2 linked regions of the Homo sapiens genome follow. The protein of the gene in region 1 interacts with the protein of each later gene in a biochemical or structural test. Each region holds a gene or a part of one and is shown in the gene's direction. Other genes may lie near its edges.

Region 1 (5,711 bases):
GGAGAAGGGAAATGGCCTGGCTCCCAAAAAAGGAAGTTAATTATTTGGCCAAAGAAGCTCTCCCTAATCCCCAAATGCTTTCTGCTGCTGGCCTCCAGAGAAGTTCCTGATAAGGGTCACTCTAGCCTTGGCTAGAACCATGGAAGTGGTTCCCAAACCTTGCCCAAAGCTCACTGATGGTACTCATTCCTCTCAGAAAGCGGGACTGATTCACACCTGGAAGATAATCATCAGGGAGCACCATCTGCGGTCCAAGACCCCAAAGGAGAAAATGGTGCTCCGAAGACATGAGATCAACACAGAGCTGGAGTCCCCCACCCACAGCCATCCAGCTGCCAAGCAGTTCAGGACAAGGCCCCCAAATCATCATGCGAATTACTGTGAAGCTACATTTCTCCAGGGCTTTACCATGTACAGAGCCAGGATTTGAACTCGGGTGGACTGATTCTATTCTCAGATTCCATCCTGCCTCCCAGCCATCCTACTGCTCACCGAGCCTTGCAGAGCAGGCTGGCACCTGGCATGCTTGGCAGTGGGTACATCCTTCCTCATTCCACAACTGAGGAAGCAGCAGCTCCGTGAAATTAGGCCGTTTGCAATGGCCACATACTCCTGAGAGGTAGAATGGGTACTCTACCAGTGCTGACCAACCAGACTTGAGCTCATCATTCAACACATGGCACCTGAACTGAGAAAAGGGGTCATGGGATGGAAAGAGCTCTGGACCCCTGACAATTCTGTGGCCCTAGCCTACAGCTCCCCACAAGGCTCAGCTCCTATATAGGGACTCCATGGTCTAGTGGGAAAGGCCCTGGGCCAGAAGGCCATGGCCAGGTTTAGGTCAGGACTCTGTAGCACTAGTTATGTGACCTTAGGAAGTCACTTTGTCCCTGTGACTTGGTTTCCGCATCTGCAAAACAGAGATAACATCTAACCTCACGTGATTATTGTCATCTAGTGAGATAAGTGAATGTGGAATCACTTTGAAAAGACTACAACACTACACTGCAGGATAGCCTTGTCGCCTGTAAAGGAAACCTCTCCAAGGCTGTGACCACTACAGATTTTGCCTGAGGTTAAGTCCCTTACTTCTCTCCCACTCCCACCCCCAGCCTGCCTGGGTTCAGTGTTCTTAAATTGAAACTGAAGCTAGAATGAACCTGAGGAAAGAAATATTAGTCTATGTGTATAGATGTCCAAGCCCACTGGGCATGATTTCCTAACCCCACCTCCAGCGTGCGCGCGCACACACACACACACACACACACATATACACACACACACACAGACACACACAATTATTTACTTCCTTCCCACCTAAAATGATTTCTCAAAATGAAATTACTTCCTATGGACACCTTGGACTCAGGCCAAAAAAAATTCCAATTGCTGGTAGTTTCTAAAGTGCTTGTTATGTGGGAAAGTTGACAAAAAACAATAGCTATAATATAGTGATCTTTCTTTCCACCAAGCATTCCATACGTGTTATCTCATTTGAGGTACCTTCAAAACAACTCTAGGAGTTATTTCCAGGTGAGGGGTCATTTAGAGGACATTGTCGATTGGCCAACCCAGCGTCTTGTTTTTCCTTCCCTAAAGAATCCCCATTGGGTTCATAGATCTGGTTCCACCCTTCACCACTTGGTCCAGAAGCAGGGGTGGAAGTGATGCAAAATGGTTGAATTCTAGATATATTTTGAAGACATGACCAAAAGGATGTGTGAGGGACTGGCTGTTGGTGTGAAAGAGAGGCATTACGAATGAGATTGGGCATGGAGACGTGTTTGGTGAGACAGAAGGCTTCATGCAAATACAAGATCATGCTTTTTATTATTAAGGAATGTTAACTTCCTCTTTTAGTATGGCCCCTCTGCCATCACATATGGAGACCATCCTTTGCTGGGGAGAATCTCCCCTTCTTTGCCAGGATCCTTTTTTTGCAATTTCTCCTAGTTATTAGTTTATGCAAACTCAGGGGTACAAAATGATTTTAAGGGAAGCATGCTGCCAAAATAACCATGACGTTCCTTCCCAAGCTACAAATAAGTCATTGATTAGCCCATTGGTGTACCTTACCTCAATAAACAAGGGCCAGTTGTATTCTGCCCTGGATCTTGTATAATGAACTTCTTCTTCTCCATAGCTCACAGCAGGCAGTGAAGGCTGAGGATCTTCATGCTTCTTCCCTGGCTCCCCTAGAATGGATGTGTGTGGCTGGAAAGAAATGGAGGTTGCGCTGGTCAATTTTGATAATTCAGATGAAATCCAAGAAGAGCCAGGCTATGCCACAGACTTCGACTCAACCAGCCCAAAAGGCCGGCCTGGGGGCAGCTCCTTCTCCAACGGGAAGATCCTCATCAGCGAAAGCACCAACCATGAGACGGCCTTCTCCAAGCTTCCGGGAGACTATGCTGACCCCCCAGGGCCTGAGCCAGTGGTCCTAAATGAAGGAAACCAGCGGGTGATCATCAACATTGCTGGGCTGAGATTTGAGACCCAGCTCAGAACCCTTAGTCAGTTCCCAGAGACTCTCCTGGGAGACCGGGAAAAAAGGATGCAGTTCTTTGACTCCATGAGAAATGAGTATTTCTTTGATCGGAACCGGCCCAGTTTTGATGGAATCCTATATTATTACCAATCTGGTGGGAAAATTCGGCGCCCAGCCAATGTTCCCATTGATATCTTTGCTGATGAAATCTCCTTCTATGAGCTGGGTAGTGAGGCCATGGACCAGTTCCGGGAGGATGAAGGCTTCATCAAAGACCCTGAAACACTGCTACCCACCAATGACATCCACCGTCAGTTCTGGCTCCTCTTTGAGTACCCTGAAAGTTCCAGCGCTGCCCGTGCTGTGGCCGTGGTCTCGGTGTTGGTTGTGGTCATCTCCATCACCATCTTCTGCCTGGAGACACTGCCAGAGTTCCGGGAGGATAGGGAGCTAAAGGTGGTCAGAGACCCCAATCTCAACATGAGCAAGACAGTCCTCTCCCAGACCATGTTCACCGACCCTTTCTTCATGGTGGAGTCTACCTGCATCGTGTGGTTCACCTTCGAGCTGGTGCTCCGGTTCGTGGTCTGCCCCAGCAAGACTGACTTCTTCAGGAACATCATGAACATCATTGACATCATCTCCATTATCCCCTACTTTGCAACTCTCATCACAGAGCTAGTCCAGGAGACAGAGCCGAGTGCCCAACAGAACATGTCCCTGGCCATCCTGAGGATCATCCGCCTGGTGAGGGTCTTCCGCATCTTCAAGCTCTCGCGCCACTCCAAGGGGCTGCAGATCCTCGGGCAAACACTGAAGGCGTCCATGCGGGAGTTGGGGTTGCTCATCTTCTTTCTCTTCATTGGAGTCATCCTCTTCTCCAGTGCAGTCTACTTTGCTGAGGTGGATGAGCCAGAGTCCCATTTCTCTAGCATTCCTGATGGCTTCTGGTGGGCAGTGGTCACCATGACAACTGTAGGCTATGGGGACATGTGCCCGACCACCCCAGGGGGGAAGATTGTGGGCACTCTGTGTGCCATTGCAGGGGTCCTCACCATTGCCCTCCCTGTGCCTGTCATTGTCTCCAACTTCAATTACTTCTACCACCGGGAGACTGAGAATGAAGAAAAGCAGAACATCCCAGGAGAAATTGAAAGAATCCTCAACAGTGTAGGCTCAAGAATGGGCAGCACAGACTCTCTTAATAAGACCAATGGTGGCTGTTCCACAGAGAAGTCTAGGAAATGATCAGTCCAGGGCTTCTTGGGTCCATCCTGTCTCTCTTCTCTCTTCTCTCTCTCTCTCTCTCGCTTTCTCCCCTCCTCTCTCTCTTCCTTCTGCCTTCCCTTCCTCCCTTCATTCCTTCCTCTTTCCCTCTCCCTTCTCTCATTTCATCTTTCCAAAGATCAAAATGTATCTTTTGTGATCAATAACTATCTTTGACTACAAGCTATTTTAATAAGCCCATACTTCTACTGTATTTTCTAAACTGTTTCTTTTCAATACATTATAGAAAGATTTGGATCTCTTTTCCTATGAAGGGATAGTTCAGGTCCCCAGACCAGAAATACTGGTATCACCCGGGAGGATGAAAATGCAGAATCTAGGCCTACTCTGACCTACTGAATCAGAATCTGCAGTTTAACAAGATCCCAAGTGATTCGTTTGCATATTAAAGATTTAAAAGCACTGGTTTTGGTCTTCCTACGAGGAAGCATATGAAAAGACCAAGGGTTGCTGTGAGCAAAGAGGAAGAGCTCAGAGTTATTCAATTACAATAATAATAATACCTTGTACTTGTGTAGCACTGCATAAATTTTCCAAAAACACTTTCACCTACATTATCTCACTGCATCTTAGAATAATCAGATTTGATTATTATTTGATTTGATTATTATTCCCACATTACAGGTGAACAAACCAGGGGAGAGCAACTTACCTAAGGTCACCCAGAAACAGTGATATAGTCAATGCTGTCAAATCTCCTACCTACTAGCCCAGTGCCCTTTCCACTAATGAAGAAGATGTGTCAGAATTGGGGGAAAGGTGAGAGGAGTTTGAGGGGACTTTCAGAGGGTCCAGGCAGCAAACCTCTGGGCAGAGACACCCTTCCCCGGATGCTTCAGGATCTCCTCACAGCCTGGGAAGGCAGCATCTCCCTGACCCCTTGCTCCTCAGCCCCTTTTCTGGATAGTGGACAAGCAGAAACATCCCTCGATGTTTTCACCTGGCTCATCTCCATGGAGTTACACAAAGACTGGGGATCCTGAGTGTGGGAACTGTGGGCCCTAGAGAACTGCTCCAGGAAAGTGCACTTGTCCACCTGCCTCGAGGTTCAGCTCCCATTGAGTCATCAGGAATTGGCCAATAGCCTGTGGAGCTGCTGGGAAGGGAAGAGCAGGCTTCCACGTCATGTGCCCAGGCCCCAGGCTTACTCAAGGAGGATGGTTGTAGCAGGCCGGCCTAAGGACTGCCCTCCTAGGAAAGGAGGCTGCTCAGTCCTCCAAACTCCCAGAATGAGGGAGTAGAATTGGGATTCCCCAAAGGACAGGGAAAGAAGCCTCCACTCTGTCCCTCCCCCATCTACCCGGTCAAATAAGGAGGCCTTGTGCTGTCCTCAGTCCCAGCACCCAACATGTGGCCACTCAAAGATGTGTCAACACCAGAACAATGCCCCTGGGCCACAGCTCCACCTCACACAACTCCCAACACACTGTCCTGGCTGTGTCTGTCAGGGTTCTCCAGAGAAACAGAGCCAATAGGGTGTGTGTGTGCGTGTGTGTGTGTGCATGTGTGTATATTTATATGTGTACATATATATACAGAGAGAGAGAGATTTCTTGTAGGGAACCGGCTCACGCATTTATGAAGGCTGAAAAGTCCCATGTCCGCAGGGTGAGTCAGCAAGCTGGAGATTCAGGAGCACCATGGTGCAGTTCTGGTAGGAAGGCCAGCAGGCTCAAGCCCCAGGAAGAGCCAATGTTTCATTTCAAGTCAGAAGGCAAGAAGAAAACAATGTCCCAGCTCAAAGGCAGTCAGTAAGAAGGAATGGCCCCTTGCTTGGGGTAGAGAATCAGCCTTTTTGTTCTATGCAGGCCTTCAACTGATTGGATGGGGCCCACACACATTAGGAAGGGCTGCCTGCTTTACTTAGTCTACTGATTTAAAGGTTAATCTCATTCAGAAACACCCCCACAGACACACCCAGAATAATGTTTGACAA
Region 2 (3,500 bases), on another chromosome or scaffold:
GGCTCACGTGTAATCCCAGCACTTTGGGAGGCCGGGGTGGGCAGATCACCTCAGGTCAGGTGTTTGAGACAAGCCTGGCCAACATGGTGAAACCCTGTCTCTACTAAAAATATAAAAAGAAAAAAAGTGAAAATTATTTATGAAATTCTAAGAGTACATAGTCATTTCAGTCTAGTAATGGTGGTTATTCACTTCATGTCCTGAGCTTCAAGTGTAATATGTCAGTCTGATATTCCTAGGGTGACTTAAACAATGATAATTATTTCAGAATTCACATTGTTGGGATGTGACTGGTGTTGTTTTTGTGTGTTTAGTTTGATTTTGGGGTTTTTTGACTAGCATTTTAAACAACTGGAAAATAAATCTTTCTTTAAAAAGTAGCTCCCCAAAAAAGTAATTTTTGTACTTCTACAGGTGATAAATAGGAAAGAGGAATCTGTCTTTTTTTTTTTTTTTTTCAAGATGGAGTCTTGTGCTGTTACCCGGGCTGGAGTGCAGTGGCGCAATCTCAGCTCACTGCAACTTCCGCCTCCTGAGTTCAAGCAATTCTCCTGCCTCAGCCTCCCAAGTAGCTGGGATTACAGGCACCCATCACCACACCCGGCTAATTTTTGTATTTTTAGTAGAGACGGGGTTTTACCATGTTGGCCAGGCTGGTCTCGAACTCCTGACCTTGTGATCTGCCCGCCTCGGCCTCCCAAAGTGCTGGGATTAGAGGCGTGAGCCACTGCACCCGGCCGAATCTGTTATTTTTAATAAAATTCCCTGAATAATTGTAAATGAATTTAAGTAAGAACAATATATGCAGCATCCTCTATTTTTTCTGGTCCTGAGGAAGATAAACAAATACAATCCTGTCCAATGCTGCCTCTGCTCGTTATGCCCCAGCAGTGCAGGAGAAACAAAAATATCCAACAGGATTAAGTTTTATTAGTTTTGCTTGGCTGCTGATGTCCGGTAAGGAAATGCTGTGGACATAACAGAAGTCTAGTGAGCCTCCTTTCAGAATCTTCCCTGAGGGAGCATTTTGGATGCAGGAAAAGCTGGGATTCTTAAGCTTTTACATTGAACTTAGACCTTATTTAAAACTACTAAGGTGATAGTTCAGGTCTTTAGTTACAAAAGCATTCATTTAAAAATCTGCTTCTGTAATTCTGTTTAAAGAAAGGGAGAGGGACTTAGGAGCATTTATCTAGTCAGTCAAATATGTGTCAGGCACTGGGCTAGGCTCTGAATATACAGCTGTGAACAAAACAAATATCTGTGCTTTCAAATGGGGGAGATAAACACATAAACACAAATATACAATTTGATAATTCTAGGAATAAAAAGGATGTTTTTGGGTTGGGAGGGCACATACCTCTGGGAATACAACACAGAAGTGAATTTCTGAAAGAAACATGAAATCATTGACCTAGAAGTAGAAGGAGAGTATTTCAGACAGAAGAGATGAGTATGTTCAGGGTATGTAACCTGAGAACAGCTGAAGAACTCTGAACGGTTTGAGATCTTACTCTACTTTGAAGCTAACTTGTTAGCCTGCCATGAATTCATGGATGCTGGCAGAAGACAAGAGACTCCTAAAGGACAGTTTCTTATTCATAGCAATAGCGTAGCCAGAGTATCAGCATTTCTTTTGGTTCCCTTAGCCCCACTTCCTATGGGGCAGCTAAGAAGAGGGTAAGGTGAAGCCTTGTACATTGAGTGTGTTACGTTAGAGGAGAGGAACTCCATGTTCAGGCCACCTCAGCCTTATAACTGGCAGTAAACCTGCCTGTCCTGTGCTGCTTTGTCTTATGAGGCTGAAACGGCTTTGGAAAGATAGCCTAGAACAAAGGCAGTTTAGTGTCTCTGCTCCCAGCTTGCAGAATGGAGAGACCAATAGAGAACTGTCTCCCAGCATATATAAGAGCACTTTAAGAAGGCCCATATGGCTGGCATGTTTTGAGCAAAGTAGAGAGTAGAATAAGGTTGAGATCAAAAAGCTCAGCAAGGAACAGATGAATCAGGGCCTACAGACCATGAAAAGAAGTTTAGAATTTCTTCAGAATGCAAAAAAAGGCCATTGAGCAGTTTTAAGTAAGGATGTAATGTGATGGAATTATATGTTTAAAAAGGTCACTAGCTGGCTGGATGTGGTGGCTCAGATCCATAATCCCAGCACTCTGGGAGGCAGAGGTGGGAGGATCAGTTTAGCCAAGGAGTTTGAGACCAGCCTGGGTAAGATGAGACCCTGTCTCTACAATTTTTTTTTTTTAAATTAATTGGGCATAGTGGTGTGCAGCTGTAGTCCCAGGTACTCAGGAGGCTGAGGCAGGAGGATCACTTGAGCCCAGGAATTTGAGGCCACAGTGAGCAGGGATCACACCAGTGTACTCCAGCCTGGGCGACAGAGTGAAACCCTATCTCAAAAAATAAAAAATAAGCCACTTGCTATCTTGTGGGCATCTTTTAAAATTCATTCCTTGTGTCTCTCTAAGGTAGCTATTAGGAAAAATCACCTGTTTAGGTAGATTTTTTTTGTTTTGGAGACACGAGTCTAGCTCTGTCACCCAGGCTGGAGTGCAGTGGCGCGATCTCGGCTTACTGTAACCTCCACCTCCTGGGTTCAAGCAATTCTCCTGCCTCAGCCTCCCAGGTAGCTGGGATTACAGGTGCCCACGACCACACCTGCCTAATTTTGTATTTTAGTAGAGTCAGGGTTTCACCATCTTGGCCAAGCTGGTCTCAAATTCCTGACCTCCGGTAGTCTGCCCGCCTCAGCCTCCCAAAGTGCTGGGATTACAGGCGTGAGCCATCACGCCCGGCCAGGTAGATGATTTTTATCCACCTGGTAGATGATTACAGTGAGACCACTGTATTTGGGGTAGTTTTTTTCTTGTGGGAACTGTTATTGCATAATATACGGTTAACTTAGGGCTTCACCTTAGGGACCTGAATTAGCTGTTCCTTTCTGCCTCAAATAGTTTACCCTCATTTTTCAGATCCCAACCTAAATATTACTCAGAGAGTCCTCCGTTAACTACTGTTAGTCTGTTCTTGCATTGCTATAAAGAAATACCTGAAGCTGGGTAATTTGTAAAGAAAATTTATTTTGGCATATGGTTCCTCAGGCTGTACAGGAAGCATAGTGCTGGTATCTGCTTCTGGTAAGGGCCTCAGGAAGCTTACAATCGTGGCAGAAGACAAAGGGGGGCCAGTGAATTATATGGCGAGAGGGAGCAAGAGAGTGAGGGGGCTGCCACACAGCTTTAAACAACCAGAACTTGTGTGAACTCAGAACAAGAACTCACTTATCCGGGGGGTGGTGCTAGACCATCCATGAAGTGTTCAACTCTGTGGTCCAGTTACCTCCCTACAGGGCCACCTTCCGCACTGGGAATCACATGGCTTTGTTTTTTTTCTCTCTCTGTCACCCAGGCTGGAGTGCAGTGGCGCGATCTCTGCTCACTGCAAGCTCTGCCTCCCGGGTTCAAGCGATTCTCCTGCCTCAGACTCCT

The links. Proteins that work in one complex are often made in the same cells at the same time.
Region 2: the proteins of KCNA10 (region 1) and POMP form a complex in vitro, tested with the Homo sapiens proteins (one study listed by BioGRID).

What each region holds. Positions count from the first base shown.
Region 1 is NC_000001.11:110,515,277-110,520,987, reverse strand, and holds KCNA10 (potassium voltage-gated channel subfamily A member 10), read left to right. Parts: upstream 1-1,812; 5' UTR 1,813-2,200; coding exon 2,201-3,736; 3' UTR 3,737-3,771; downstream 3,772-5,711. UniProt on the Homo sapiens protein: Voltage-gated potassium ion channel that mediates K(+) permeability of excitable membranes.
Region 2 is NC_000013.11:28,672,630-28,676,129, forward strand, and holds part of POMP (proteasome maturation protein), read left to right. Parts: intron 1-3,500. UniProt on the Homo sapiens protein: Molecular chaperone essential for the assembly of standard proteasomes and immunoproteasomes. Degraded after completion of proteasome maturation. Mediates the association of 20S preproteasome with the endoplasmic reticulum.